Homo sapiens: one gene and its partners. The protein of the gene in region 3 interacts with the protein of the main gene of each other region in a pairwise test. Each region holds a gene or a part of one and is shown on either strand. Other genes may lie near its edges.

Evidence for each region.
Region 1: the proteins of LGALS14 (region 3) and FCHO1 interact in binary tests that used the Homo sapiens proteins (3 or more experiments, as listed by UniProt).
Region 2: the proteins of LGALS14 (region 3) and SH3GLB2 interact in binary tests that used the Homo sapiens proteins (3 or more experiments, as listed by UniProt).
Region 4: the proteins of LGALS14 (region 3) and ZNF438 interact in binary tests that used the Homo sapiens proteins (3 or more experiments, as listed by UniProt).

Annotation. Positions count from the first base shown.
Region 1 is NC_000019.10:17,768,470-17,775,500, forward strand, and holds part of FCHO1 (F-BAR domain only protein 1), read left to right. Parts: intron 1-1,955; coding exon 1,956-2,108; intron 2,109-2,322; coding exon 2,323-2,427; intron 2,428-3,987; coding exon 3,988-4,086; intron 4,087-4,175; coding exon 4,176-4,272; intron 4,273-5,769; coding exon 5,770-5,814; exon of another isoform or gene 5,815-5,818; intron 5,819-5,924; coding exon 5,925-6,009; intron 6,010-6,586; coding exon 6,587-6,611; intron 6,612-6,986; coding exon 6,987-7,031. UniProt on the Homo sapiens protein: Functions in an early step of clathrin-mediated endocytosis. Has both a membrane binding/bending activity and the ability to recruit proteins essential to the formation of functional clathrin-coated pits.
Region 2 is NC_000009.12:129,006,536-129,011,362, reverse strand, and holds the end of SH3GLB2 (endophilin-B2), read left to right. Parts: intron 1-597; coding exon of another isoform or gene 598-669; coding exon 670-693; intron 694-1,153; coding exon 1,154-1,243; intron 1,244-1,491; coding exon 1,492-1,592; intron 1,593-1,895; coding exon of another isoform or gene 1,896-1,910; intron 1,911-2,016; coding exon 2,017-2,257; intron 2,258-2,571; coding exon 2,572-2,679; coding exon of another isoform or gene 2,680-2,821; 3' UTR 2,822-4,327; downstream 4,328-4,827. Other genes in the region: nucleoporin NUP188, read right to left, coding at 4,685-4,827.
Region 3 is NC_000019.10:39,700,082-39,707,484, forward strand, and holds the start of LGALS14 (placental protein 13-like), read left to right. Parts: upstream 1-4,399; 5' UTR 4,400-4,447; coding exon 4,448-4,462; intron 4,463-5,623; exon of another isoform or gene 5,624-5,826; coding exon of another isoform or gene 5,827-5,928; intron 5,929-6,515; coding exon 6,516-6,592; intron 6,593-7,096; coding exon 7,097-7,307; intron 7,308-7,403.
Region 4 is NC_000010.11:31,021,853-31,028,883, reverse strand, and holds part of ZNF438 (zinc finger protein 438), read left to right. Parts: intron 1-4,480; exon of another isoform or gene 4,481-5,464; intron 5,465-7,031. UniProt on the Homo sapiens protein: Isoform 1 acts as a transcriptional repressor.

The DNA of each region.
Region 1 (7,031 bases), about 22 Mb from region 3:
TCACTTGAAGTCAGGAGTTCCAGACCAGCCTGGCCAACATGGTGAAACCCTGTCTATACTAAAAACACAAAAATTAGCCAGACGTGGTGGCACACACACCTGTAATCCCAGCTACTCAGGAGGCTGAGACAGGAGAATGACTTGAGCCTGGGAGGTGGAGGTTGCAGTCAGTTGAGATCGCGACACACCACTCCAGCCCGGGCAACAGAGTGAGACTCTGTCTCAAAAACAAAACAAGGCAAAAAAAAAAAAAAGGAGAGAGAGAAGGGGTCCTGCTGTGTTGCCCAGGCTGGTCAAACATCTAACATATCTGCCTCAGCCTTCCAAAATGTTGGCATTACAGGCATGGGTCACTGTGCCTGGCCAGGAGTGAATTTTTAAGTGGTAAAAGCAGGCCAGGCGTGGTGTGCATGCCTGTAGTCCCAGCTACTTGGGAGGCTGAGCTGAGGTGTGAGAATTGCTTGAGCCTAAGAGTTAGAGACCAGTTTGGGCAACACAGTGAGACCCCATCTCTTAAAAAAAAAAGCTGGGCACAGTGACTTATGTCTGTAATCCCAGCACTTTGGGAGGCTGAGGCGGGCAGATCACCTGAAGTCGGGAGTTCAAGACCAGCCTGGCCAAAATGGTGAAACCCTGTCTCTACTAAAAATACAAAATTAGCCGGGCATGGTGGTGCATGCTTGTAATCCCAGCTACTTGGGAGGCTGAGGCAGGAGAATCGCTTAAACCCGGGAGGCGGAGGTTGCAGGGAGCTGAGATTGTGCCACTGCACTCCAGCCTGGGTGAAAGAGCAAGACTCCGCCTCAAAAAAAAAAAAAAAAAAAAGGCCTGGCACGGTGGCTCAAGCCTGTAATCCCAGCACTTTGGGAGTCCGAGGCAGGCAGATCACGAGGTCAGGAGATCGAGACCATCCTGACTAACACGGTGAAACCCCGTCTCTACTAAAAATACAAAAGAAAAATTAGCCGGGCGTGGTGGCGGCGCCTGTAGTCTCAGCTACTCAGGAGGCTGAGGCAGGAGAATGGCGTGAACCCGGGAGGCGGAGCTTGCAGTGAGCCAAGATCGCGCCACTGCACTCCAGCCTGGGTGACACAGCGAGACTTCGTCTCAAACACACACACACACACACACACACACACACACACACACACACACACACACACAAAACGGTGAGTTAAGCAACACAGTCTGCCACTGTTTGTCATAAAACTTGGGTTAGAACAAGCATCTTTATCCATATGCGGATTATTTCTAGAGAAGTATCACAGTAATAATTGGGGACTTCTAGGCTGGAGGGCCCATATATGGGAGGCTTTTTCCTGGCTTACCTCTTACAACTTTCTGAAATATGAACCATGTGTAAATAGTACTTTTTTTTAAAGTTAAAAATGTTTTGAAATGAAAAACGTACAGGCCGGGCGTAGTGGCTCACACCTGTAATCCCAACACTTTGGGAGGCTGAGGCAGGTGGATTGCTTGAGTGTAGGAGTTTGAGACCAGCCTGGGCAACATAGCAAGACCCCATTGCTATTAAAACACACACACAGAGGCCGGGCGTGGTGGCTCACACCTGTAATGCCAGCACTTTGGGAGGCCAAGGTGGGCAGATCACCTGAGGTCAGGAGTTAGAGACCAGCCTGGCCAACATGGTGAAACCCCGTCTCCACTAAAAATACAAAAAATTATCTGGGTGTGATGGTGAGCACCTGTAATCTCAGCTACTTGGGAGGCTGAGGCAGGAGAATTGCTTGAAACCGGGAGGCAGAGATTGCAGTGAGTCGAGATCGTGCCACTGCACTCCAGCCTGGACAACAAGAGCGAAACTCTGTCTAAAAAAAACCAAACCAAAACACACACACACACATAGAAAAAGACTGTGGAGCTGACATCACGTGGAGTGTTTGGGAGGTCAGGAATTTCACAGTCTACCCATGAAATCCCCTCCTACCCCGCAGTGCAAGGAGGAAGTGGTGAGCACCTTGGATGCTGTGCAGGTACTCTCGGGCGTCAGCCAGCTCCTGCCCAAGTCCCGCGAGAACTACCTGAACCGTTGCATGGACCAGGAGCGGCTGCGGAGGGAGAGTACCAGCCAGAAGGAGATGGACAAGGTGGGCTCACAGTGGGGGGGTTCTGAGGAATTTGCCGCGGGGCGGAGGGGCTGCCTGATCAGAGAGTGGAAACACATCCCAGAGCGACGGTCCTGGAACCTGTGGGTGATCACACCCTGGGTACCCCGAGGAGTTCACCTGCCAGGTGATGGGGCCTGGGGGAGGCCCCCTGAGTATCGCCCTCCCATCCCCGTTTCCTCCCTGTGCTTTGTAGGCGGAGACTAAAACCAAGAAGGCGGCAGAGAGCCTGCGGCGCTCAGTGGAAAAATACAACTCAGCCCGAGCTGACTTTGAGCAGAAGATGCTGGACTCAGCCCTGGTAAGAACCAGGCATCTGTACCTTTAAGACCCACACATGCCTTTGCCCTGGAGGTTATGGACTGCAGAAATCCCAGGCAGGGTGTGGTGGCTCACACCTGTAATCCCAGCACTTTGGGAGGCCGAGGCGGGAGGATCACCTGAGGTCAGGAGTTTGAGACCAGCCTGGCCAACATGGCGAAAGCCTGTCTCTACTAAAAATACAAAATTAGCCGGGCGTAGTGGCAGGTGCCTGTAATCCCAGCTACTCAGGAGGCTGAGGCGGGAGAATCACTTGAACCAGAAGGCGGAGGTTGCAGTGAGCCAAGATCGAGCCATTGTACTCCAGGTTAGGTGATAGAGTGGAACCCTGTCTCGAAAAAATAAAATAAATTCAAGCAGATTGGAATCTGAGGATTAGGAATCAGAACTTTTTTCAAGTTACAAGTGATAGAAGCCTTCATTCAAACCGACAGGTGTATATAAAAAAAAAAAAGAAAAGAAAAGAAAAAGGCTGGGCGCGGTGGCTCATGCCTGTAATCCCAGCACTTTGGGAGGCCGAGGCAGGTGGATCACGAGGTCAGGAGATCGAGACTATCCTGGCTAACACGGTGAAACCCCCTCTCTACTAAAAATACAAAAAAATTAGCCGGGCGTGGTGGTGGGTGCCTGTAGTCCCAGCTGCTCAGGAGGCTGAGGCCGGAGAATGGCGAGAACCCAGGAGGCGGAGCTTGCAGTGAGCCGAGATTGCGCCACTGCACTCCAGCCTGGGCGACAGAGCGAGACTCTGTCTCAAAAAAATAAAAAATAAAATAAAAAATAAAATTTAAAAAAACTGACAAGCTCAGGGAACTGTAAAGTTTTATTTTTGAGTTGTGGAGGTTTCAGTCATAGCTGAATCCATGTGCTCAAATAGTGCTGGCAGGAAATTGTGAATTTCTGCTTCTTTTATTTTTTTGAGATGGGATCTCTCTGTCACTCAGGCTGGAGTGCAGTGGCGTGATCTCAGCTCACTGCAACCTCCGCCTCCTGGGCTCAAGTGATTCTCCTGCCTCAGCCTCCCTAGTAGTTGGGATTACAGGCACGTGCCACCACACCCAGCTAATTTTTGTATTTTTAGTAGAAACGGTTTCACCATGTTGCCCAGACTGGTCTTGAATTCCTGACCTCAGATGATCCACCTGCCTTGGCCTCCCAAAGTGCTGGGATTACAGGCATGATACACCACAGCTGACCACTATTTCTGCTTCTTAAGTCTGTTTTTCTCTCTGGGGACATCACTCCCACACAGACATCCCCTTGTGTGTGTGTGTGTGTGCATGTGTGTGCAAGCATGCACATGTGTGCATCAAACTGGGCACCAGCAACCCCCACTTACATCCCATCAGCACATTGGCTCAGGAATGGAAGTGCCTTTTCCTGTAGAGTCAATGAAAGTCCTAGGGCAGACTCTCATTGGCCCTTCCCCAAATCAATCACTGAGCCAAGGGCTTAGGGTATTCTGATTGGTCAGGCTGAGTCATATGGCCACTTCTTCTTGGCCCTGACCTCCTTTCCACCTGCCTCTGCCCTCCTGCTTCAGCGCTTCCAAGCCATGGAGGAGACACACCTGAGGCACATGAAGGCACTGCTGGGCTCATATGCTCACTCGGTGGAGGACACGCACGTGCAGATTGGGCAGGTGAGTTGGGCAGGTGTGAGGAATGAGGCTGGGGTCACTGCTGGGCAAAGGGGCCTTGACCAGTTACACACCCCGCCCACCCGGCACAGGTGCATGAGGAATTTAAGCAGAACATCGAGAACGTCAGCGTGGAGATGCTACTCAGGAAGTTTGCAGAGAGTAAGGGCACAGGCCGGGAGAAGCCTGGTGAGTCAGGGCAGCCATTGGGGGTCGGGCTTCGGGGCCACAGCTGCAGACAGGCATGTGCCACCATGCCCAGCTAATTTTTTTTTTATTTTTTTATTTTTAATAGAGACGAGGTTTCACCATGTTGGCCAGGCTGGTCTCGAACTCTTGACCTCAGGTGATCTGCCTGCCTCGGCCTCCCAAAGTGCTGGGATTACAGGCGTGAGCCACTGCACATGGCCAGGCCTTGGTTTCTTCATGGGAAAAATGGGCTGCTGACAAGTCCAGCTCTCCAGCCTGATCTTATGTGTAAATGTCTTTGAACCAGATCCCAGAGGAGCCTTGAATGCCAGGCTTGGCTGATCAGACTTCACCCCCAGGGCCTAAGGGAGCCATTGAGGGTTGTTGAGCAAAAGAACAATTTGGGAATGCGCAGATGCAGGACTGGGAAGGAGTTAAGAGCAAAAGTTTTAGAGTGAGACGTGGGTTTGAGTCTTTTCTTCATCGCTTGCTGTGTGACCTAGGACCTGTGCTTTGACTTCTCTGAGCCTCAGTTTCCTCATCTGTAAAGTGAGGATGTAATAATGTTGCAACATTCAGTGATTTCATGCAGGTAAAGGGCAAAGGGTGTGCCAGGCACACAGTAGGCACTCACTAAATGCTGGTATACAGTTACGTCCTCAAGTCTTGTTAACTAGCAAAACCTGTTCTTTCTCCCTCCTGTCGCTCTGGCTCAGGCCTGGCTCAGGTCTCCCCTCCCTGCATGGGGCCCCACTCTTGCCCTTCACAGGCCCCAGATCTGTTTTGTCCTCCTCCTGCTCACACACCTTCCATGGCTCCCCATTGTTCTTGGGAGAGAGTTCCCACTCCTTATCCTGTCACTCAAAGCCCAGCCCACTGCACAGACGCATGGTCCATTCCCCGACCCAACCCAAGTTCCAGCCACAAATGCTGGAAGTATGTAGAAGTAGCTCATGTCACCCCCTGCGGTGGCACTGCCCTGCTGGAACCAGACCAGCCCCTTGGTCCATCCCACTTCTGATGATGTGGGGCTGGTTCTTGTCCGGGAACCTGATGGACCTTGAGTTCAGATCCAGGTGCCATTTTGTGGCCAAAAGTGTACTACCCTTTCCAAGCGCAGTCTCCCCACCCTCAATTTAGTTTCTTTCTCTCTCTCTCTCTCTTTTTTTTTTTTTTTTAATTTTTTTGAGGCAGAGTCTTGCTCTGTCACCCAGGCTGGAGTGCAGTGGTGCAGTCTCGGCTCACTGCAACCTCCGCCTCCTGGGTTCAAGCGATTCTCCTGCCTCAGCCTCCCCAGTAGCTGGGATTACAGGCGCCTGCCACCATGTCCGGCTTTTTTGTAATTTTAGCAGAGACAGGGTTTCACCATGGTGGCCAGGCTGGTCTTGAACTCCTGACCTCAGGTGATCCGCCCGCCTTAGCCTCCCAAAGTGCTGGGATTACAGGCATGGGCCACCGTGCCCAGCCCCTCAATTGAGTTTCCGTCTCCTGTCTCAGGACCTCTGGACTTCGAGGCATACAGTGCGGCTGCCCTGCAGGAAGGCAAGTACGTCTGGGCCTGGATGCCCAGGCTGGACCATGGGGGTGAGGGAGGCTGATCTGAATGTGAAAGGAGGCTCACAGTGCTCAGGTGCCCCCCAATCTATCCTCAGCGATGAAACGTTTGCGGGGAGCCAAGGCCTTTCGCCTTCCAGGACTAAGCCGGCGGGAGCGGGAGCCAGAGCCACCTGCAGCTGTGTGAGGAAGCACCCCTGCCCGGTCTGGCCCAGGCTAGACCGAGATCCCCTCCCCTGCCCAGGCTATCCCAGAAGTCCCCTCCTAGGATAGCCCAGGAGTATCCATATTCCAGGCTGGACCAGGATTCCCTCTACCTGAGCTAGACCAGGAGTACCTCTGCCCCCGGCTAGCTCAATATTACCGCTGCCCAAGCTAGTCCAGAATTCTTCCTTTTGCTAGGTTAGGCCAGGAATTGCCTGTCCCAGAGTAACGTAGCATCTTCCCTGCCCAAGCTGGCCCAGGATTGTTCTGTTTGCCAAGGCTAGCCCCGACTTTCCCTATCTTCACAAGGCAGCCCTTCAAATGAGTTCCAGGATTCCTTCCCTCCCAGGCTGTTTGAGAACACTCTCTACTCAGCTAACTTCAGATTCAACCCCCTCCCCAAGCAAGCCCCATGGTCCCACCGCCTCTAGGGCTAGCTCAGGGCAGTATCACAGTCTGGGAGCTGCCCCAGCTTCCATGTCCAGTGTTGGGGGCTGACAGGGGGCACCAGATGGGCTGCGGAAGCTGACACCAACATCTCTTCCTCCATCCCCAGAGATTTCCTGGAGCCCGATTCAGGGGTGAGTGATGTGGGAGGGGTCAGGCTGGGCTACAAGTGGAAGGAGTTTGATCCCACTCTTGGCTCCTAGAGTCCCGATCCCTACTGGAAACTAAAGAGCCGAGATTGAGGGGCGGGCTGGAGCCTGGGGGCTGGGTTCATATCCCACCTCAGCTGCAAAGTCCCATGGACTACGTGGGTGTGAATAATGTCCCTGCCGAAGCTCAGTTTGTCCCAGGAACCTGCCCACACACCCAGGGAAGACAGTCGTTGCCATCAGGGTTGGTTTTGAGGTCTGAGTCAAGGCCTGGGGGCAGGGCGGGGGGCGGTTGGCAGGGTGAGATGGAAGGTTCGATAGTGGGGCGCCTGACTCACTGCTGCCCCCTGACTCCCCTAGACATGTCCAGAGGTGGATGAAGAAGGTTTCACTGTCCGGCCTGAT
Region 2 (4,827 bases), on a different chromosome or scaffold from region 3:
GCAGCATGGGGGCCACACGGGCCGGCCACGCACACTGGCCTGGGTCCGCATTCCCTATTTCAGGCTGTTGTCTCGGGTCAGATCTCCGGAAGCGGCAGGAGCGCTGGGTCTCCTGGTCGTGGCCGGGCAGCGTCTTTCTTCTTCAGGGTCTGGATGCCACTTCCCGCCTCCTCCCTGTGCCCAGTGGAAGGAGAAACATCCTAGAGGGTGGAGACTGCCCTGTTTTTCTTTTGCCATTGAGTCCCAGTGTGACTCAAGCACGAGGCCACCTTTCTCTGCCAGAGGACAGAAAGCTTCAGTGACTGGCCCAGGGTCACACAGTTCTGCCGCCCAGCCCAGCAGCCTGAGCCAGCAGTCAGGATGGGGTGGGGACACTCCGTCTCTCTTGAGACCCCACTCAGAGAATGGGGCTGACACTGTAGGAGAAATATAAGCAGGACTCCTGCTGGCTGCTCCCCTCCTGCATGAGGCATGTTAGAGGGACTGGGACCGCCAGCCCCCAGCTCCCATGCCGGGCCTCGGCCCAGTCTCAGCTCCTGTTTGGGAGGGGGGGCAGAGGGGCAGGGGGGCAGAAGTTGAGTCTGGGAGCTGGGGCAGGGCACAGGCTCTAGGGTCCAGCTGTCCTCCTCTCCCCTCCCCTGCTGGCCACTCCTGCTGCCGTCTCCACAGCTCTGGAATGATGAAGTGGACAAGGTAAGTTGGGGCCTGGGGGGCTGGGCTCGAGGAAGAAGGGGTGGCGGGGTGCAGGCACACTTGCTGCTGTGGGGTCTGATCTGTTTCTCACTCTGCCCCACACCCACTGGGGAGGGGTTACTGCTTTCCCTCCCTGGGCCTCAGTTTCCCCTCTGTGGGGAAATGTTTTCTCCACAGTACCCTGTAGCACACAGTAGGCCCTCAGGATGCACTTGCTGGGTGGATTTCTCCGATGGGTGATGGAGGAAGGGTCTGTCACTGCAGCTGCCTGTGGGGTCCTGAGTGGGGCTCTAGCTTCTCTGGGGTTGGGGCTCCAGGTGTGAAGTCAGGCATAGACCCAGAAGGCTCTCTGTGTTCCCAGGGGAAAGGGACAGGCGGCTCCCAGGTAGGCTCCAGGAGAAGACTGCGGGGAAGCTGGTGGGTGGTGTGTGGGTGCTCATGGCTGCCCTGCCCTGCCCAGGCCGAGCAGGAGCTCCGCGTGGCCCAGACAGAGTTTGACCGGCAAGCAGAAGTGACCCGTCTCTTGCTGGAGGGAATCAGTAGCACTCACGTGAGTCCCACTGCCCACCCTCACTAAACCTAACCCTCAGCAGGCACCAGGTGTGCCTGAACCACAAGGTCAGCAGGGCTGCCCCAGAATGGCCCTCACAGAGCAAGTCCCACCGGGGAGGGTGTGGGCGCAGGGGCAGGGCACCCTGGAATGCCGGAGCAAGGTCTGGTAGAGGACGGGGATGGGGACGGAATTTTTTGTTCTGAGGGCGGGAGGTTAGAAGTCAGCCTCTGGCCTCTTCCCCGCAGGTGAACCACCTGCGCTGCCTCCACGAGTTCGTCAAGTCTCAGACAACCTACTACGCACAGTGCTACCGCCACATGCTGGACTTGCAGAAGCAGCTGGGCAGGTGCGGGGCCAGCACTGCTGAACCCACTGGGGCCCCCTGGCTCCCATACCCTGTCCGTGGGCAGCATGAGCTCCTCTGGGCAAGTCCTGTGACACAAAGCTGGGTTGGAGGGCTCTGCTGGAACCCACTCTGGGTGCGGGCATCTCATGTGTATGAGGGTGGAGTGGCTGGCCTTACTGACGGCCAAGTCCCCTGGAGCCCCTGAGGGTTTCTAGGGAATGCCTGGGTGGGGAGGATGGCAGGGACCAGGGGGTGGGGCCATCTCACCCTTCCCTTGCTTTGCTTTTCCCTTTGTGCTGCCAGCTCCCAGGGTGCCATGTGAGTAGCCGGGGCTGGAGTGGGGCTCCTGGGGCTGGGGAGGGGAGTTTGCCTCTGGGGTCCCTTCTGGGACTCCCACCTGCTAAGATGTATCCCTCCTCTCCAGATTTCCCGGCACCTTCGTGGGCACCACAGAGCCCGCCTCCCCACCCCTGAGCAGCACCTCACCCACCACTGCTGCGGCCACTATGCCTGTGGTGCCCTCTGTGGCCAGCCTGGCCCCTCCGGGGGAGGCCTCGCTCTGCCTGGAAGAGGTGGCCCCCCCTGCCAGTGGGACCCGCAAAGCTCGGGTGCTCTATGACTACGAGGCAGCCGACAGCAGTGAGCTGGCCCTGCTGGCTGATGAGGTGGGCCCGGTGCCGCAAGGTGGGGCAGGAATGGGCTGGGTGAGGAGCAGCCTGGGCACTGGGATCAGGCACATGGGGCCTGGAGGGGCCCTGTTGGCAAAGTGGGGACCAGCAGGTTAAAGAGGGCATATCCAGCTCTGAGGAAAGGATCCTTGCTCTGCTGGGTCTCTGGAGCAAGTGAGATGAGCGCCAGCCACTGAAGGTGTAGCACATGCCACGGGCCATGGGGAGGTGGCAGCTCTGTCCCCACTTAGTCCTGGGGCCAGTTCCACCCTTGGCCAGGCCATGACCGTCCTCTACTGCCATCTCTGCAGCTCATCACTGTCTACAGCCTGCCTGGCATGGACCCTGACTGGCTCATTGGCGAGAGAGGCAACAAGAAGGGCAAGGTCCCTGTCACCTACTTGGAACTGCTCAGCTAGGCAGGTGCCCCCATCCCCCCCGCATTCTGGCCTAGGCAGGAGAGGATGGGCGCAGCCCTGCCACTTAACTTGTTTGTTGGTGACACAGTTGTTCAGAGTGGGGAGAATTCACCCCATTCTGTCCCTGCCCCTAGTCACCTAGCTGTGAGGGTGCCTGAGGCTGAATGGCTCCACCCCTCCCCCAGCCCTGCTTCTGACCTGTGGCTCTGGAGCCCCTGCCCCTGCCTGCATCCCCGAGCACCCCACCCTCCAGGCTCCACTAAGGAGGGAGGGGCTGTCTGCAGCAGCTGCACTCAGCACCTAGGCCAGGGTGGGGCCGCCGCAGATGGGCTCAGGAAGCCCCAGGTGCACTCAGCGAGAGCCCTGCCTTTCAGTTGCCAAAAGCTGCATCAGGGGAATGCGGCAAGGCACACAGGGCTCTGGCAGCCCCTGGGGACTGGGCGCTGCCCCTGGGAGGGGAGAGCCTGGCCAGGGCTGGTGTTGGGCCCGGAGCAGCATCTTCCGGTGCTATCCTCCCCTCCCACCCCTCACAGCTCAAGCCAAGTCCAGCGGCCGCAGTCTTCACCTCTCCACACTCACTTTTTATCTGGTGTTTTTACTTCTGCCTGCGTTTGCTCTCTAGCCAATAAACCGTCCTTGTGTGCGAGTCACCTGGGCTCCTGTCAGGGCCTGGCCCTGAGGGTGGTAAAGGGAAAGGTAGACTCACCCTCTGCCCCACTCTTCCACAGAGTGAGCAGGGGCCCTGTGGCTGCCCCGGCCCCCAGCTCTCTAGTTGGGAAGAAGTGCAGCCCTCCCTGTCTTCTGCGGGGCCTGTGCCTCTCAGAGGGCAGTGCTGTTCCTGGACATGAAGCCGCACAAGGAACGTTTTATTCCTAAGAAAAAGTTTCCTAAATTTGGATTGTGGAGCGGACTGTAGAATGCGTCTGACAGTTCAGTTCAAGCACAAGAAGTGGGTAGCGGTCAGTGCTGTCTGCAGGTCGGGCGTTTCACCCAGCATGTGCCCCCGTGCCATGGGTTCTCATGCCGTCCTCAGTGTCCACATTTCACAGATGAGATCAGCAAGACAGTCAGCTCCTCAAGGGACCACAGTTGGCAAGTGGCCAAGCAGGGACTGAAGCCCAGGCAGCCTGATTCTAGAAACCCTAAGTGATGTCTGTGTTTTAGATGGCCCCTAGCAGGACCTAGCATTCTGACTTCAGTCCTGAGAAGGCCAACAGCCAGTAGGCCCCACTGTTGGGGCTTCTGAAGAGGGGATCGGGGGATGACGGGGGCACGGGGCTATAAATAGGAAGGCACAGAGCTTCAAGAAAGGCTCACCCAGGGATGAGCTCAGCCCACTGGGCCAATGAAAGCAGGGTCAAGGACAGGACCAGCGCAGGCCAAGGAAGGGAATATCTGACAGCGCCCACCCAGCCAAACCCTCAGCCCAAGGACAGGAATGAGGAGATGCTGGTGAACTAGCCATCCATCAGTACCTGCCTTCCCCCGAGGCTGCAGCCCCACTCCCAGGCGCCTGGCCAGGGGAGTTTTCTAGGTTCTGAGAGCCACGTTGTCATCCCTGGGCTTTGAAGTTAAACATCACACAGCTGTCTATAAACAAGATTTTAATATCTGTATAAATAGACCACAGAATTACCAAAACTGCAAAGACAGAGTGTGGAAAACAGGTTTGAAACCCGTGCATAGAGCCCTCTGCTGGGCTGCCGCCTCTCCCCTGGCCGGCAGTGCTGTGGGGAATGCTGGAAAGGAAGGAAAGTTCCTCTAGGGGGCGTCTGCAGCGTGAGGACCTGAGCACAGAAGACTCGGCTCCCCATGCCTGCTGTTGACCTCTTCATCTAGTATAAAAATAACGTCAGTGGGTGGTGGCTGGAGTCGTGGCTACTCCGGGAGGGGGGTGACAGGAGGTGCCCTCCATTGTATAGGCCCTAGCAGCCAGCAGCACCCCTGCCAGCCAGGGTGCAGTGTAGGCTGGTGGAGAGGGGTAGGTGGGCAGAACAGCACTGCCCTATCTTTGCATATGCCGGACAAACGCCTGCACCAACTGGATCAGAGGCTCCTGACTCTCAGGGCTGGCTTTGGAGAGAGAGGTGGACTTGCCCTGCGGCGAGGGGAGGACACCAGTGGCAGGGGAGCTGGGGGCTCCCCGGC
Region 3 (7,403 bases):
CGCAAAGTTTCAGCATACAAAATCAATGTGCAAAAATCACTAGAATTCCTACATGCCAAAGACAACGAACCACAGGGCCAAATCAAGAATGCAATTCCATTCACAATTTCCATAAAAAGAATAGAATATCTAGGAATACAACTAACTGGGAGGTGAAAGATTGTTACAATGAGAATTACAAAACACTGCTTAAAAAAGTAGAGAAGACCCAAACAAATGGAAAAACATTCCATGCTCACAGATAGCAAGAATAACTATCATTAAAACAACCACATTGCCCAAAGAAATGTACAGATTCAATGGTATTCCTATTGAACTATCAATAACATTCTTCACAGAATTAGAACAATCTATTTTAAAATGAATATTTTAAATATTAATTGAACCGAGTGGGTTGAATAAAAGATATTCCAAAGCAAAAAGAACAAAGCTAGAAGCATCACATTACCCAACTTCAAGCTGCACTATAGGGCCAGAGTAACCTAACAGCATAGTACTTGCATAAAAACAGACACATAGACCAATGGAACAGAAAAGAGAGGCAAGAAGTAAGGTCCCACACCTACAGCAATCTGATCTTTGACAAAGTTGACCAAACAAGCAATGGAAATAATTTTTGGATAACTAGCTAGCCACGTGCAGATGATTGAACCTGAACCACTTTCTTGCGTTATATAGAAAAATCAACTGAAGATGGGTTAAAGACTTAAATGTAAAACCCAAAACTATAAAAACCCTGGAAGTCTACCTAGGCAGTACCATACCGAATGTAGAAATAGGCAAAAGATTCCTGACAAAGATGCCAAAAGCAATCACAAGAAAAGCAAAAATTGACAAATGGATCTATTTAAACTAAAGAGCTTCTGCACAGCAACAGAACCTATCAACAGAGTCAACTGACAACCTACAGAATAGGAGAAAATATTTGCAAATTATGTATCTGAAAATTGTCTAATATCTAGCTTCTATAAGGAACTTTAACAACTTTACAAGAAAAGAACAAACAACCCCATAAAAAAGTGGGCAAAGGGCTGGGTGCAGTGGCTCACGCTTGTAATTCCAGCACTTTGGGTGGCTAAGGTAGGTGGATTGCTTGAGTCCAGAAGTTCAAGACCAGCTTTGGCAACACGGCAAAACCCTATCTCTATGAAAAATAGAAAAATTAGCTGAGTCTTGTCTCAGGCACCTGTAATCTCAGGGACTCAGGAAGGTGAGCTGGGAGGATCGCCTGAGCCCAGGCAGAGGTTGCAGTGAGACGAGATTTCACCACTGCACTTCAGCCTGGGTGTCAGACCAGGCTGTCTCAAAAAAAGTAGACAAAGAACAGGAACAGATACTTCTTAAAAGAAGACATACATGTGGCCAACGAGCATATGAAAAGAAGCTCAACAGCCCTGAACGTTAGAAAAATGCAAATCAAAACCACCATGGGATACCATCTCTCACCAGTCAGAATGGCTAGTATTCAAAAGTCAAAAAATAACAGAAACTGGCAAGTTTGTGAAGAAAAGGGAACACTTACACATTTTTGGTGGCAGTGTAAATTAGTTTAATCATTGTGGAAAGAAATGTGATGGTTCCTCGAATGGCTAAAATAGAACTACCATTCAACCCAGCTATCCCATCACTGAGTATATACCCAGAAGAATATAAATCATTCTACCATAAAAACGTGCACATGAATGTTTATTACAACAGTATGCACAATAGCAAAAACATGGACTCAACCTAATAGCTCATAAAGGACAGACTGGATAGAGAAAATGTGGTACATATACACCATAGAATACTATGCAGCCTCAAAAAAGAATGAGATTATGACTTTTGCAGGAACATGGATGGAGTTGGAGGTCATTAACCTTAGTGAACCAATGTGGAAATGAAAAACAAAATACTGCATGTTCTCACTTAGAAGTGTGAGCTAAATGATGAGGCCCATGGATACCAAGAGGGAAACAACACACACTGAGACCTACTTAAGGGTGGAGGGTAAAAGGTGAGACAGGAGCAGAAAAAATAACTATTGGGTACTAGGCTTAGTACCTGGATGTGAAATAATCTTTACCGCAAACCCCATGACACGAGTTTCCCTGCATATGTACCCCTGAACATAAAATAAACGTTTAAAAAACAAAGAAAAAAACCAATGTCACCTTTCTTCTGGAATCTGCAGGAGAAACAGTGTCTCTGAAACTTTGATTCACATGGACATCAAGAGAAAGGAGAGAGTATTGCTAGAGTCCAGGTGTGGGACAGACAGATGAGAGCAGCCCTCACCTGGTAGAGCCAAAGGGCTTAGCATGGGGCAGGTTCATGCAAGGACGTTCTCTACCTCCCCCCCGGATCATCCTGAGGATCAAGGGCAGTGCTGTCCCAGAATCTTTAAAGGCAAAAAGAACAATTTAAAGGCAGAATGTATGATCTGTAGGTGTCTCTTTCCAATAAGTGTGGGGAAGAGGAATACAGACTACGGGGGTACTGGTCCCTTAGGTGAGGTCTGCACAGCTGGTATGCAGTACCAGCTACTCAGGATACTGAGCTGGGAGGATCACCTGAGCCCAGGAGCCAGAGGTTGCAGTGAGCCAAGATGGAGCCACACCACTCCAGCCTGAATGTCAGAGTGAGACCTGTCTTAAAACAACAACAAAAGGCGAGAAAAGACAAGAACAGAGAACAGATACTTTTCTTTTCTTTTCTTTTCTTTTTTTTTTGAGATGAAGTCTCACTCTGTCCCCCAGGCTGGAATGCAGTGGCATGATCTTGGCTCACTGCAAGCTCTCCCTCCCGCATTCATGCCATTCTCCTGCCTCAGCCTCCTGAGTAGCTGGGACTATAGGCGCCCGCCACCGGCCCGGCTAATATTTTGTATTTTTAGTAGAGACAGGGGACGCTTCTCAAAAGTACACATACAGGTGGCCAACAAGTATATAATAAAAGCTCAATATCACTGAACATTAGAGAAATGCAAATCAAAACTACAATGAGATACCATCTCACACCAGTCAGAATGGCTCTTCTTAAAAAGTCAAAAAAGGACAGATGCTGGCAAGGGTGTGGAGAAAAAGGAGCACTTACAGATTATTGGCGGTGGTGTAAATTAGCTCACCCATTGTGGAAAGCAGTGTGGTGATTCCTCAAAGAGCTTATAACAGAACTACCATTAAACCCCGCAATCCCATTACTGGGAATGGTGTATACACTACTGTATACACAGAAGAATAGAAATTATTCTGCCTTAAAGACATATGCATATGAATGTTCATTGCAACACTGTGCACAATAGCAAAGACACAGAATGAACCCAAATGCCATCAAGGACAGATTGGATACAGATAATGTGATACATATACACAATGGAATACTATGAAGCCCTAAAAAAGAATGAGTTCATGTCTTTTGCAGGAACATGGATGGAGCTGGAGGCCATTATTTTTAGCAAACTAATGCAGGAACAGAAAACCAAATACTGCATGTTCTCACTTATAATTGTGAACTAAATGATGAGACTCATGGACACCAATAGGGGAACAACACACACAGAAGCCTACTTGAGGTTGGAGGGTGAAAGGTGAGATAGGAGCAGAGAAAATAACTATTGGGTACTACGCTTAGTACCCAGGTGAAGAAATCATATGTACCACAAACCTCATGACATGACTTTATCTGCATATGTACCCCTGAACCTATAATAAAAGTAAAAAAAAAGAAAAAAGAAAAAAAATCTCATCTTTCTCCCAGAATCTGCAGGAGAAACAATATCTCTGAAACTTTGTTTTACATGGACTCCAAGACAAAGCAGAGAATGCAGCTAGAGCCCAGGTATGTGACAGACAGATGAGAGTGACCCTCACCTGGCAGATCCAAGGGGCCTAGTGTGAGGCAGGTTCATGCAAGAACTATCTCTACTTCTCTTCCCAGATCCTCCTGAGGATCAAGGTCAAAAGGATCTGACCCTTAAAGGCCCTCCCAGAACCTTTAAAGGCAAAGAGAAGAATTACCTTCTAGGTCTAACGTCTTTTTCCAAAATTCCCAATTTTTTATTTTTAGTCATTGTACAAATTGAGGAAATGTACACCTTCTGGCTAGATTCTGCATACTGGAGAAAAAGCTTGAGAGGCACAAAGGCTGGGCTTTACAATCCCTACCCCTCACTCCATCATCCTTATCTATGCATTTCCCTGGTAACCCAATCCACAGCCTGGTACCTCCCCCACTGTCATTTCTGCTGCATTACAGACACAGACCTGCAAACATCTATGGTTGTGACAGAGTTTCTTTCTGACACCTGAGTCTTTCTCCTGCTGCACGGAAAGCTTGCTGGGAGGGGCTTGGAATCTGGCATGAAGCCAAAGGGCATCTCTGAGTTGCAGCATTTAAATGATCCCACTCAGAGATTCACACAGAAGACTGGACACAATTCCGAAGAGCTGCCCAGAAGGAGAGAACAATGTCATCACTACCCGTGAGTTGAAAAGTCACAGCCTTCAATAATCTCAAGTCACATAAACCAAGAAAGAAACAGGGGAGGTTTTCTGAGTTGAAAATATGAGCATTCCTACTGTGAATGCATTACCGAGAGTTGTGGGTGTGTAGAAGAGAAACCCTGAGGCTGTGGTATCTGAGATGATTGTGGGTGTAGGCTGTGGACCCTGGACCAGTGTAACCCTCTGTGAGGGTGTGGTGGTGTCTGATGAGAGTGAACTCTGCTGAGATTAAGTGACTTTAGGTGGGAGGTGGATGACCCACCAGGACCGGCAAGTGTGTGAGTGAGTGTAAGGGGGTGAGTGTGCTTTGTCTTCCTGTCTGTGATGTGAGTGTGTGTGGGCACAGCCAGACCAGTGCATGGTCATCTTTATGTGCACAGTGAGCAGGTGTGTGTAACTCAGTGAGTGGCATGGCTCTGTGTGACTATGGGTGTGTGTGCTGGGATGTGACTGGGTATTGAAGGGAAAACATGCACGTGGCCTTCTGTGCATGTGAAGGTTCCTCCCCACACAGCAGCACCTCTGATGAAGCACCTGTGTGTCTTTTCATGTGTGGCAATGTGGATCCCAAGTGGCTTAACTGGTGGGGATCTTGGGGATTGTGAGTTACCAAGGACTCGTTTCAGATCACTTATGAGAGCGAAATATATCATCAGTAGATATCTCTTCCCAGTAAGAGTGAGGAAAAGGAACGCAGATTATGGGAGAGATGGTTCCTCAGGTGGGGACTGCACAGAGTGATCACTGGCTTTTGCCTCCCAGGCTCAGCTTCCCTGTCGCTAGCCCAGCCTGTTCTTCCCATTGTGGAACAGGCGAGTGTGAAGATACTGATTTGCCAGGGAAGAATATTAGAGGCCGTGGTTAAAGAGACGGAATCAAACAAAATATCCACTGTAAGCTCTGTCTGAACTGAGACTAAACTTGTTCCTCCACTCATGAAAGAACAAGCTGTCTGAATTCAGACAGTGCTTACTGTGGACATTACTCAACAAAGCAGCTGGGTTCACTGGTTCATGACTATAATCCCACCAATTTGGGAGGCAAAGATGGGAGGGTAACTTGAGGCCAGAAATTTGAGACCGGTCTAGGCATCATAGTGATATGCTTTCTTTAAAAATCTTTAAATATCTGACTGGCAGAGTGGCAGACACCTTTCACCCCAGCTACACAAGAGGGGGCAGATGTGTGAGGATCACTGCAGTCCAGGAGTTCGATGTTTCAGTGAGCTGTGATTGCACCACTGCATATCAGCCTGGGTGACAGAGCAAGACCCTATCTCAAAAATACAGAAAAATCATCAACCACTTGCAGTCGTCGTAGAAATCAATCATTCCCTCCAGTTATGTCCCTGACCCACAGGCTTCATTTGTGCAAGTACTGGGGCTGTGCTGTCAGTAATGTGTGCCGCTTCTGGGAAGGACGTCCATTGCCCTTGATGATTGTGGTGCGTGTACATCCCACACACAGGGGTTTCCTGTTCTTTCGTCATTTCCCTTTCTCTTTCAACAAGTGTTGTTTCTCACTGGAGTGAATTTTTAAATTCTTTCACCCTCAAGTCTTGTTTTCATTTTCTGAGTTGAAAATAAGGCAGGTCAGTGTTTCAGGAGGACTCCCCTGTTCTGTTAGGTCACCCCTAATTGACCCTATACATGCCAGGGATTAGGGTAAAAGTTTTACCTATATTAACTCCTCTATTACTGAGAACACCCTACAAAGTAGGAATTCCTGATAGTCCTCCTTGTCCTGGGGAAACTGAGGCAGGGAGAGGTTAAGTAATAGATCTAAGATTGCACTGCTAGTATAAGGCAAAATGAGGACTGGAATCCAGGCATCCGGGCTCTTGAACAATTGCTCTTACCTATGGATCCACCATATCTTCAGGAATATGGGGCCCTGACTGTGGTAGGGTGAAAGGGGAGAGGCCTCAGAGTCTGACCTTTGATCTCTAACCTCCTGCACCATGGGAATCTGTTACATAGGGGAGGTTACACCTTACCCTTTAGCTCTCACTCACTCTCCATACCCTGGCAGGTACCATACACACTGCCTGTTTCCTTGCCTGTTGGTTCGTGCGTGATAATCACAGGGACACCGATCCTCACTTTTGTGTGAGTACTCCATGGTCCAATGGAGGGGGTGGAGGAGAGAAGGGAGAATATTTGCTAAGGGTTTAACCTTATGTGTGAGTGATGTGGAAAACTCTAGTTGGCATAATGAAGGCCTCATGCAAGTGCAGGCCCTGGAGACCTTCCAGCAACAGACATGAGACCTGTAGAAACTGCATGCAGGCCAGCCACGGAACCTAGGGGAGGAGAACACTCAGTGGGTTTGGGTTGTGGCTCTTTATTAAAGGGCATAGAATTTTCAGGAAATGAACAAGTCATAGGCCCATGTCACTGACTGGCGCTCAGTTTTTGTCTGGGGATGAGGAACACAGCATCTCCCTGCCTGGGGGCATGAGGAGCTAAAGCGTCCCCACAGGGACCAGGACTGCAGTATCATCGGGGAGACTTTTTGCCCTGGGTAAAGGGGGGAAGGGATTTGTGTGTGTGGCGAGTGTGTGTCTGCACAATGGGGGGACCTGCCCAACATGCTGTGTGCTTTGACCTCAGCAAGGACCCACAGCTGGAGGTGAATTTCTACACTGGGATGGATGAGGACTCAGATATTGCTTTCCAATTCCGACTGCACTTTGGTCATCCTGCAATCATGAACAGTTGTGTGTTTGGCATATGGAGATATGAGGAGAAATGCTACTATTTACCCTTTGAAGATGGCAAACCATTTGAGCTGTGCATCTATGTGCGTCACAAGGAATACAAGGTGAGTACTTCAGGATCTTCCAGCGCTGGAGCTCTGTGGGCTCTTAGAGCAGGAGGCAGCTTTCATTGACCTGGTGCCACCAGTCCCTTGGGGCCC
Region 4 (7,031 bases), on a different chromosome or scaffold from region 3:
TCATGCAGCCAGTATCTGGTATTCCCCACTGTAGGTTCCGTAGGGGCAAGGTCTGTCTCTTTGACTTCTCTATCTCTAGTCCCTAATCCAGTGCCTGCTGTGTAGTAGATGTTAGGGATGACTTTATATAATGGGCATTTGGTTAGGTTTTGGAAGTTCAGAGATGAATAAAACAGTTCTTTACCTTAGAGGAGCAGGGTATGAGGAAAAACCTGTGGGAATAAAATTAGAGTAGACTAAATGCATAAATACATGCCGATTAGTTCATTTGGGTTTTCTGCACCCTCCCCTCCCCAGCTTCCATGACTTGTGAGATGGGGCATGAAAAGGGCAAAGGGGCAAAAGAATGCCTAAGCTGTTGCAGGATGAAGTTGAGGCTCCCCAAGAGTCCTTTTCAACAAAAGAATTACTCAAAATCATGCATATTTTACTATATTTGCATTAGCTTTATTTGGCAATGATAGAATTTTTACCAAATGAAATAAATTCTGATATTTGACTGTCCTTTTGAAGTGATGAGTTTTTCCAGTTCTATTACCTCAGTGTTGACAGGGCTCACCAGAGAAATAAGGGAGTTGGCTTGAAATGTTGCAGCTTGCATAATAGAGGGTGATGGAGGGGTTGGGTGAAGTATTCAGGCAGGTTTCCACCGGTTTAAGTGTGTCATGCCAAAGTTCCACCTATTGGAATAAGTTTGAGTTTCTTTGCTGACCATCTCTAACATTGACATGTATTTTTTTTTTGTCATAGAAAGGGGATCTGGTGATATATATTGTAGGTGGAATTGCAGATTACATCTCGTATAGCTGGATCATTGTAGAACATGGAGACTAGAAAAATACAAACAAAAAAAGATGTGTCTTGTTCCCGTAGATCTTTCATGGCATACCATAACCTCAACAGTTGTCACAATTTTGTTACTTCCTAACATGAGTATTTCAAATTTAAACCATGTAAGAATTATATAAAATTGCACTGCCGTAGATTTTATGGTTAATTTCAGAATTTTTAAAAATATATAAAATTATATTTTGTTTTAAGCTTTCATTGGGAAAGTATCTAAATAACCAGATCTATGATTACTCTAAACAGAAGCCCTCTACTAACGTAAATGTAGAGGGGTGCCATCTCATTTTGCAGTTCACAACGTTTTAAATCTGCTCTTGTAGCTTCCCTACATTTAATGGAGTTGAAATGATTAGTCTTTATTTACACCACATTTGCAGTTAGTTTCCCAGGAACATCAGATACCCATATATGGTATAAAGTAAAATTGCATAGTCAATAGCCTATTGATGCTCAGGTGTTATTGACTTTTAAGTTCAGGCACAGTGAGGGCAGGTTGATGGTTATTTAATTGTGTCAGGTAGCTCCCAGCAGAGGGGGAGTGATGGTAAGTTCTATCTGAAAACAACAGGACCCTCTGTTTCTAACACTGACCATGCGAAATATAACATCCTAGATAGTAAATAAAATTCAGATTCCTTTTAAAATTTACATTTGCACAAGCAAATTTTAAACTATTTTATGAGTACTTTTATATATATGAAGATTTATTGTTGAAAACAGTGTGTCTAGCCCAGTGATAGTACATACTGAGCATTTAAATATAATTCTTTTTTTAATTAAATTTATTTTTTAAATTATACTTTAAGTTCTAGGGTACATGAGCACAACATGCAGGTTTGTTACATATGTATACATGTCCCATGTTGGTGTGCTGCACCCATTAACTCGTCATTTACATTAGGTATGTCTCCTAATGCTATCCCTTCCCCCTCCCCCGACCCCACGACAGGCACTGGTATGTGATGGTCCCCACCCTGTGTCCAAGTGTTCTCATTGTTCAATTCCCACCTGTGAGTGAGAACATGTGGTGTGTGGTTTTCTGTCCTTGTGAAAGTTTGCTCAGAATGATGGTTTCCAGCTTCATCCATGTCTCTACAAAGGACATGAACTCATCCTTTTTTTATGGCTGCATAGTATTCCATGGTGTATATGTGCCACATTTTCTTAATCCAGTCTATCATTGATGGACATTTGGGTTGGTTCCAAGTCTTTGCTATTGTGAATAGTGCCACAATAAACATACGTGTGCATGTCTCTTTATGGCAGCATGATTTATAGTCCTTTGGGTATATACCCAGTCATGGGATGGCTGGGCCAAATGGTATTTCTAGTTCTAGATCCTTGAGGAATCGCCACACTGTCTTCCACAGTGTTTGAACTAGTTTACAGTCCCACCAACAATGTAAAAGTGTTCCTATTTCTCCACATCCTCTCCAGCACCTGTTGTTTCCTGACTTTTTAATGATCGCCAATCTAACTGGTGTGAAATGGTATCTCATTGTGGTTTTGATTTGCATTTCTCTGATGGCCAGTGATGATGAGCATTTTTTCATGTGTCTGTTGGCTGCATAAATGTCTTCTTTTGAGAAGTGTCTGTTCATATCCTTTGCACACTTGTTGATGGGGTTGTTTGATTTTTTCTTGTAAATTTGTTTAAGTTCTTTGTAGATTGTGGATATTAGCCCTTTGTCAGATGGGTAGATTGCAAAAATTTTCTCCCATTCTGTAGGTTGCCTGTTCACTCTTTATGGTAGTTTCTTTTGCTGTGCAGAAGCTCTTTAGTTTAATTAGATCCCATTTGTCAGTTTTGGCTTTTGTTGCCATTGCTTTTGGTGTTTTAGACATGAAGTCCTTGCCCATGCCTATGTCCTGAATGGTATTGCCTAGGTTTTCTTCCAGGGTTTTTATGGTTTTAGGTCTAACATGTAAGTCTTTAATCCATCTTGAATTAATTTTGGTATAAAGTGTAAGGAAGGAATCCAGTTTCAGCTTTCTCAATATGGCTAGCCAGTTTTCCCAGCACCGTTTATTAAATAGGGAATCCTTTCCCCATTTCTTGTTTTTGTCAAAATTCTACTTCTTGCAATCACTTTTATTTTTGCATTATTATCTTCAACTCATATATATTTGTAGTAGTAGCTGGATGCTTGTTTGTGTACTTTACACTCTAAATGTTTGAATATATTTAAATAATTTATATAAGTAGCACTTATTTTTGCTTCATTTCACATTTGGTTGCTTAAAAATTAAAATCTTTAGGTTTGATTTTAACACATTACACTAATGGCTAATAATTAGTAAGTCTAGGTGGAGACTAAGCTTTAGTGACAGGTTAACCAAGTTTTAACCCCAAAAGAACACCCAGAAGAAAATTCTTAGGGAATAGTAAGCAAAACCAGTATGTCGATGAAAGGAATAATTTAACCATAACTACGTAGCTATTATTCTTCAAGTTGTTACTATTCTACAGGGAGTATTTTCTTATTTGGTTCTTCAATTGCAAAGCTATTAATTTCAGTCTGCATTGCAAGCCACCAAGCAGTGTGAAATAAATACTGGAAGATGATACTGTGAAGAATCTGAACTCAGAATGATTTTTTACTTTCCAACACACTCTGGGGACATTTGGCAATGTCTAGAAAACATTTTTGGTTGTCACATTTGTGTGTGGGGACATTACTCCTAGCATCTAGTGGATTGAGGCCATTATAGCATGTCACTGAATGTCCCACAATGTACAAGACAACTTCTCAACAACAGAAAATTATCCAGTTCAAAATGTCAGTACTCCTGATGTTGAGAAATTCTGTAATATCTTTTCTTCCTTCACTCCCTCCTTCCTTCTGTTCCTCCTTTTTTATTTTTTTATTTTTTTGCTTTAGAAATGGAGGTGGTAGTTTTAAGTGGCAAATGCCTGACTTGGACAAAGGATTGTGTTGTACTGCTTTTAGTTTGTTGGATAGCTGAGCTAATTTGGTTCATTTACTGAATGGGAAATAATTCTTGGAGCTAATAATAGTAGCCTTGAATTTTTTTGGTTGCTAGTGTGTCTAGTGGTTTTGTATTTGTTTTTGGCTATGAATATTTTTCTTACTAAAATTAATTTAATCTGGACTTTATATAATCCTGGATTGTAACAGGTTTCCTAGTGTGAATTCCCTTTATTGTTGTATATGTTAAATTAGCTATTTCACAGTTTCATGGTTTATATCTGTCAAAATCCTTTTCACATTAATTTTCATTTTTGATTGTTACAAACAGCCCATAAAATGTGTAGGGCATGCATTATCCTCACTATTAGACCAATGAAGAAACAGACTTAGGTTAAATGACTTTCCATATGTGTTAATAAGTTAGTGATGAAAGCAAATCTAGAACTTTATACCTAGGAATCTTTTTTTTTTTTTGAGACAGAGTCTCGCTCTGTCGCTCAGGCTGGAGCGCAGTGGCGCGATCTTGGCTCACTGCAAGCTCCGCCTCCCGGGTTCACGCCATTCTCTTGCCTCAGCCTCCCTAGTAGCTAGGACTGCAGGCACCCGCCACCAAGCCCGGCTAATTTTTTGTATTTTTTTAGTAGAGGCGGGTTTTCACCGTGTTAGCCAGGATGGTCTCGATCTCCTGACCTCGTGATCCGCCCGCCTTCACCTCCCGAAGTGCTAGGATTACAGGCGTAAGCCACTGCGCTCGGCCGTACCTAGGAATCTTTTAAAGTTACCAGTTATTGTTATCCCATTTAATCTTCTTGACAATACTGTGAAATAGAGTTATTACTCTCATTTTATAGAAAAAGAAGTTGGTTTAGAGATATTAAATAACCTATTCAGTGCCACCCAACTCATAATGTAGTTTGGCTGTTTCCACTGAGCTATTCTGTGTCTTCAGATATTCTCCAATAAATAAATCTGACAATTTCTGGATAAATTCACAGAATCTTTGCCTAACTTAATTAGGTTTCTTGAAACTCATGTTGCCACTTGAATCATTGGTAATTCAGTGTTTGTAAGCCTATTCTAATTTGACTTAAGTAGAAACTTACCTGAGTTTTGGTAAACCATACTTGCTGGGTAGGGGAGAACCGTGCTTGCAGAAGACAGTCCTTTAAACAGGCAGAGACGTTTTTATGTAGGGTTTTGAGGAAGCACAGAGTTTGAGATTGGCTGATTTTGAAAAGTGCAAAAATTTAAGGATTAGCCAGCTTTAAACTTAGAGTTTAGAGACTGACCGGCTTTGAGGAGCAAAGGTACTGAAGCGGGGCAGTTGCTGATTGGCTTACTTTGTTGGCAAAGTGCTTAAGTGGAAAGGTTGAGTAGACTTTAAGGATGGATTGACTGGGGTAGATTTAAAACTGGTTTTGTGGTTACTTGTTTCCAGCTTAGGACTAGAGCCAAAGAACAATCTTTTCCTTTCTTGAAGTTGAAGAATACGTACTTTTTATGTCAAACATGTTGATGTTAGCTATGGCGCTAATATAACATACTTTTGATTTTGCTTTTCTTCTGAAACTTAAAAGAAAAATGGATGTACAAATATCACTTGTTTTCTGTCTATCAATTTCAGGACAATATATTTGGAACCCAGGCTGCCTCAAGGATTATTTTTATATGTAGTTCAAGAGGTAATATATTATTTGTGGAAATATATTAATGCTTTAAAAATTATGGTGAAGGCTGTGCTGTCTATGGTGAAGGTTATGTCTATTTTTTTTCTCTTTTGGGAGTGTGTTATATTATGTGCCTGCCACAATTAGTCTTGATAGATGCCGAATTATAGATCTAGAAGTCTGTTGTTTTTGCTGTTATTAGAGATACATCTAGAAGTGATTACTTTTTGAATGTTACTTGGAAAGTATTCTGATCAACATTATGAAAGATTAGTGATTATATTACATATATTTTATAGAACAAGGCAAGCAAAATATTTTAGTATTTGCAAATCATGTTACTATAATTATTAGATCATAGTACCATTTATATAAAGTATTAGGTTGGTGCAAAAGTAATTGCGGTTTTGGACCGTGAATTTTAAATCATTATAAGTCGGCTCAGACACGTCTTTATTAATCAGAGCAGGAAGCATTATAATCAACACATTTTTGCCAATGAGAAATAAGTTTGTTCATTCCTGTAGCTTAAAAATTCATGCTTTGGGATTTGGAAAGCATTTTCTGCTTTCCAAAAACCTGCTGGTTTTGGAAGCATTTTCCTTTCAAATAGTTGTCGAGATGCTTGAAGAAGTGGTGGTTGACAAGAGGTCAGGTGAATATGGCGGATGAGGCAAACTTCATAGCTCAATGCATTCAGCTTTCGAAGCGTTTGTTGTGTGTCGTGCGGTTGGGCATTGTCATGAAGAAGAATTGGGCCCTTTCTGTTGACCAACGCTGGCTGCAGGTGTTGCAGTTTTCAGTGCATCTCATTGATTTGCTGAGTGTACTTCTCAGATGTAATGGTTTCACCAGGATTCAGAAAGCTGTAGTGGGCCAGGTGTGGTGGCTCACGCCTGTAATCCCAGCACTTTGGGAGGCCGAGGTGGGTGGATCACCTGAGGTCAGGAGTTCGAGACCAGCCTGGCCAACATTGCGAAACCCTGTCTCTACTAAAAATACAAAATTGGCCAGGCATGGTGGTGTGCACCTGTAGTTCCAGCTACTTGAGAGGCTGAGGCAGGAGAATTGCTTGAACCTCGGAGGCAGAGGTTGCAGTGAGTTGAGATTGTACCACTGCATTCCAGCCTGGGTGACAGAGTGAGACTCCGTCTCAAAAAAAAGAAAAAAAAAAGGAAGAAAGCTGTAGTGGATCAGAGCGGCAGCAGGCCACCAAACAGTGACTATGACCTTTTTTTGGTGCAAGTTTGGTTTTGGGAAGTGCTTTGGAGCTTCTGGGTCCAGCCACTGAGCTGGTCGTTGCCAGTTGTCGTATAAAATCCACTTTTTGTCACACGTCACAATCCGATTGAGAAATGGTTCATTATTGTTGTGTAGTATAAGATGGCACTTCAAAATGACAATTTTAAAAAATTTTCCTTCAGGTCCTGAGGCACCCATTTATTGAGCTTTTTCAACTTTCCAATTTGCTTCAAATGCCAAACGACCGTAGAATGGTCAATGTTGAGTTCTTTGGCAGCTTCTCACTTAGCTGTAAGACGATCAACTTCAATGATTGCTCTCAATTGGTCATTTGTCAACT